Regions from separate parts of the Homo sapiens genome. Here region 2 is linked to region 1. Evidence: fine-mapped expression QTL. Tissue or cell type: whole blood. Region 1 holds a variant in brackets; the other region holds the start of a gene. All regions are shown on one strand. Distances are from middle to middle.

What was found. PIP is the estimated chance that this variant, and not a neighbour inherited with it, causes the effect.
Region 2: ZNF550 starts here. The variant in region 1 is fine-mapped to the expression of ZNF550 in whole blood (TOPMed, PIP 0.96).

What each region holds. Positions count from the first base shown.
Region 1 is chr19:57,535,675-57,538,361 of GRCh38, reverse strand. ZNF549 (zinc finger protein 549) reads right to left here. Exons shown (of 4, transcript NM_001199295.2): 4 at 1-1,158. Among named protein-coding and RNA genes, the nearest start is that of ZNF549, 9.7 kb to the right of the region's middle. The variant A/T (reference allele first, on the strand shown) is at 1,157.
Region 2 is chr19:57,558,683-57,561,369 of GRCh38, reverse strand. It overlaps ZNF550 (zinc finger protein 550), which reads left to right and starts at 1,507. Exons shown (of 4, transcript NM_001397372.1): 1 at 1,507-1,714. The coding sequence starts at 1,688. It overlaps LOC124904781 (a long non-coding RNA gene), which reads right to left and starts at 1,428. Exons shown (of 2, transcript XR_007067357.1): 1 at 1,252-1,428. RefSeq lists enhancers at 1,146-1,255, 200-1,399, 1,886-1,935, 1,377-2,241, 2,386-2,465.

The sequences.
Region 1 (2,687 bases):
ATTTCCCACATATGATGCACACATAAGGCTTTTCTCCAGTATGAATTCTCTGGTGCTCAAGAAGTCTTTTTTTGTGAATGAAGGCCTTCCCACATTCTTTGCACTCATAAGGCCTTTCTCCCGTGTGGATTCTATGGTGATCAAGAAGTGACTGTTTGTATATGAAGGATTTCCCACATTCACTGCACTGATAAGCCCCTTCTCCAGTGTGAACTCTCTGGTGTCGAATGCGGTCATAGGAATGAATAAAAGATTTCCCACATTCCATACACACATAAGGCCTCTCTCCAGTGTGGATTCTCTGCTGATGGCCAACAAATGTTTGTTTGTGGCGGAATGATTTCCCACATACATTGCACACATAAGGCTTTTCTCCATTATGGGTTCTCTGGTGTTCCACAAGTGAGTATTTGGAGCTCAAGGATTTCCCACATTCGATGCACACATAAGACCTTTCTCTAGTGTGAATTCTCTGCTGGTGCCCAACGAGTGTTTGTTTATGGAGGAATGATTTCCCACATATATTGCACACATAAGGCTTTTCTGCATTATGGGTTCTCTGGTGTTCAACAAATAAGTATTTAGAGTTCAAGGATTTCCCATATTCCCTACGCTTATAAGCTTTTTCTCCAGTGTGGACTCTCTGATGCTCAGTAACATGAACTTTCTCATTGAAAACTTGCTCACATTTGTAACGTCTTTGTTGAAAGGTCTCCCTGCTTCTATGTGCATACTCTTGTCTGCTGTGGGTGGTCTGGTGTTGGAGAAGGCCCAGGATGGTTGGAAAATCCTTCTCAACATCTTTGCATGGGAAAAGATTGTCTGACAGAGGAATTTTGCAGCTATTCAGAAGCAAGGCACTGCTCTCCTCCTTTCTGATGTGTTTCTCTCCACTGTCCTGGTTCTGGTGCTGTTGCAGGTTAGAACCAAATGAAAACCATTTCCCACTGGCCACAGACGTATAAGGTTTCTGCCAGGGAAGTGTCCCCTGATGCTCACTGAGGTACAAAATGTCTTTCATGACCAGGATACACATCTCACAAGAATGAGCATTTGGGATGGAAGGACCTAGCTTTGGAGTCCTGGCCTGTGACACTCCTTGCGCAGAAAGAGTCTGCTCAGAAGGGGCCTCCTCAGCCTCTATTCCATGCAAACA[A/T]CCTAAAAGCATAAAAATGCAAGTGAAGTATATGCAGACTTTGGTAGAAGGGAACAGCTCCATTACAAATACCTGTGGAACACAGGGAGGGACGAGTCCATGGTTTTTCTTTGAGATAGGGTCTTGCTCTGTCACCCAGATGGGAGTGCAGTTGCAGTCATATCTCACTGCAGCCTTGACCTTCCAAGCTCCAGTGACACTCCCATCTCAGCCTCCCAAGTAGCTAGGACTACAGGCATATACCACCATACCTGGCTAATTTTTTTTTAGAATTTCTTGTGGAGATACAGGTCTCATTATGTTGTCGAGGCTGGTCTCAAATTCCTTAGCTCAAGTGATCCTCCCACCTCAGCTTCCCCAAGTGCTAGGATTATAGGCACGAGCCATTGCACCCAGGCCATGGGTTTGTTTTCAGGACAAGGGAGCTGGAGTCAGGTCAAGGAAGATAATACTTGCAGTATTAGGCCTCTTAAGGTTACCATGTAGGGGAAGACCCATAACCAGCAAGAGAACAAGGAATGGGGTACTATGGTGGGAAGAGAGGCAGGGGGCATACAACTCCCTTCTCTGTCAATGGTTTTCAATAGGACGTCATCTGATGGAGACAGGGGAGACCTGCATAGAATGTGTGTCACCCCAGGAAAATGCAATTACAACTGGATAGCTGATGTTTGAGAGCTTAAGTAGACAGTCTTTGATTTATAATGGTTGAACTTATGATTTTTCCACTTTATGATGATACGAAAGTGACACATTCAGTAGAAACCATACTTTGAATTTTGAACTTTTCCCAGGCTAGTGATACGCAGTGTGTATACTCTTGTGATGCAGTGGTAGCAAGCTGCAGCTCTCAGTAAGCCATGCAATCACCAGGCTAAACAACTGACACTCTACTGTGTTGCTAAGCTAGGATGTCTAATAAGTTGGGTGTATTAAATGCATTTCTGACTTACGATATTCTCAACTTACAATGGGTTTATCAGGATATAACCCCATCACGAGCTGAGGAACATCTGTATCTGCACAGCTCATAATATTAAATACATTAGGTATAGGCTAATGTTGGAGAACACTGCAGAACAGGAACAGGAGAGATGTGGAGAACAGAGGTAGGGGACAATCACAGTAGAAACGACAAGTAGGCAAATTGTCAAGCAGGCAGAGAAAAGAGAAAAATGAGGTATGGCCATGAGCCCTGGCACCAAAATAGTGGGGAACATAGGACATTTGCCTGGTATGATTTGAGTTCAGCCCTCAAATCATGCCCTCCCACTGCTCCTACTCACAGGTCCCAAACCCTGTTAACCCCCCTTGCTGTGGCTGAAGACTTCACTACGCTTTCAGGAACACAGGCCTCTCCCCTGTCCCCAGCTTAAGTCAGGAGACTATCTGGGTCCTGGAAGGTAGAAGAAATCCTAAGGGAAAAACAGGGAGGTGGGTCAACAACACTGGCCCAGGGTGCGCCAACCCATGACAGACTACAGGAGGGAAATTTATTACAAAAAAACCCTTGGGAGGGGGTCTTGCTGTC
Region 2 (2,687 bases), 23 kb before region 1:
AGCCTTTAACAATTGAGTAAGGTTTACTCCTGAGAACAAAATTTGGAACATGTTTGTTTCTCTCTGCCTTATTGGTTCTTTAAGGACCACTGCAACATGGTCTTGGGAATTATACTTCAAGAAGCCTATAAGGTTAAAGGGTGTTTATACTCACAGTGATATAGGAATAGCACTGGGTGGTTGCAGGAGGATGGAAAAATTCGAACAACAAATAAAAACAAGAACTAGGCAAAGAAACCATAGGATAACAGAAAACCCAAAATAAGAGAAAGAATGGCCAAAATCCCAGTCAGGATGACATGTCCATGACTCTTCTGGGCAAAGCCAAATAAGAGAGAAAGGGGGCAGTAACCAGGTGGGTCCCTGAATTTCCCTCCTTTTCCAGAATACCTAATAATTATTCCACTCTCTAATTAAAGAAACACCCACAAAATAGGAATGCTGTGTGGTCACAGGAGAAGGGGGAAAACATCAAGCTGTTAAAATTAGCTACTCCAACAAGAAGACTGGGCTGATGAGACCTTAACAAACAGGATTGGGGCTAGGCTGTCCCATGACGCTAGATTTGACCCATTTCCTACCCCAGACCTAATTATACACTCATTGCCACATTAAATCACACACCCACCAGTGCCAGGCCAATCCAAGCACGCCCACATTTAGTATAAAAATGGTTGGCACCCCAATTCTAAGAAATTCCCACCTTTTCCTAGAAAAACCTCATGATTATCCCACCCCCTAATTAGAAGAGCCCATAAAATTAGAAACCCAAACTCCATTGTGCATGACCCGCTCTCCCTCGTACGTCCGCATTTCCCTCTTCTCTTGGGAAAAGTACACTCTTCTCAAAAATGTGTACTTTTTCTTCCCAATAAAAGCTTCTTGCCTTTGGCTTCATTTTGACTCATCCCTGCATTCTTTCTCACGATGGTGTCACGAAGCTGGACTCCGGAAGCGGGCGGGGACTCACGGCCCCTGGAGACCTTCCTGAGCCCTGGGCAACACCAGTCCACACAGAGGAGGCAGACGTCCCACAGACGGAACCCCACGAGCATGTCCCGGGAATGGCTCCACGCGGGAAGCGGGGGTCCAGATCCACGCCAGTCCCAGGGACAGTGCCTGGCGTCAGGGTGGAGGAGGACGCAGTAACCAGGCGTAAGATTTTACTGGTACATGGGAATGTCACTGGGTCACTCAGAGGAGGCAAGCGGGGAACCTCGTGGCAGGGCCCCCTTTATCAAACTCGTTTACCTGGGTGCCTGGGCGAGTGCTCACAGCCTGCTTGTAGGGACGTTGAGGCATCCGAATAATAGGAAGTTTTAAAAATTTACAATCCAGTGTGTACACTTGCTCCGCTAAGATCATCTGAGATATACAGAAACATGGTGTGCATAATAAAAAAGGAAAAAGAGCCAAGCCTGGCCTCTTACGGGACAAGACTACATTACCTAGAAGGCAGTGGGCCGGCGCAGGAAAAGGCGTGGCAGGCGACCGCGACACAGGGGCGGGACTTCCGGCCTCGCTGGCGTGGACGTTTGTGGTGGGGCGTGTTGGTCCGCGCTCTCAGAACTGTGCTGGGAAGGATGGTAGGGCGACTGGGGCTCACCTCCGCACCGTTGTAGGACCCGGGGTAGGGTTTTGAGCCCGTGGGAGCTGCCCCACGCGGCCTCGTCCTGCCAACGGTCGGATGGCGGAGACGAAGGACGCAGCGCAGGTGAGCAGACTGGCTCGGCTCCCCGCGGCCACCCGGCCTCAGTGTCCCGGGCCCGACGAGCGGAAGGACGGCGTTTCAGGGTCGTCCTCAGTGCAGTCCCTGCCGTTGCTTCTTAGAGGCCTAGAAGGGGGTCGCGCGGTCCCGGGTCCGGAATGCAGGCCCGCGGTGGCGTGGGGAGCGTCCCCGTTTCTGGGGTGCGCGGCGTTGTGGTATGAAATAGGGCTTTTAGGGTCCCGGAACCCCTCACAGGTGAGAGGAGCGACCGCAGTCCTCCTCGTGGCTCTTCCAACCATGTCCTTTCTCGGGCCTGCGACCTTGAACAAGTCCCGTTACTGTCCTCGTCCTTCATTTTTGCGCGCGCAAAGTAGAAATATTTACTCTTCCCCCCCCCGGGGTTGAGGAAGCTTGAACGGCTCCCTGGGTGATGTGTGTGTGTCCGTCTCAGTGCACAGCACGGTCCGGGGACGTCGCTCAGGATGTTGTTTCCGGAGCTGCTCCCTGGGCCTGTGCTAGGTTTGGAGACTCAACCCCAGCAGGAGTCTGACCCTCTGGCCTCCTTGGCCTCCTGTCTCTACAACACGAAGGGCAGCGGCTGAAAGAGGTGGGAGGAGCGTTTCTGCGGTTGCTGCTATGCCAGGGCAGAAAAGGTGGTAGGGCAGGCTGAGGAATTTGTCTTTCAGTTTAGGGCAAGGGACGCTGGGTTGCAACTAACAGTATATTTTCCTGTTTAAGACATTTAGTTACAGGTGAAAAACGAGTCCATTAAAATGTTCAGTGGCGATGGTATGCAGGATGTAGTGTCCCTTTGGAGATAACACATGAGGCCCAGGGTTACTCTCTAGCAGTCACTCTGATTACTTTCATGATAGCCCAGATTACTGTCAGCTCCTGTCGTAGTTGTTAATTTCTCATCCACCTCTCCCTCCTTTGCTTTATTTCTGACTCCCTCTGGTGTCCGCTGCTTAAAGAGGTC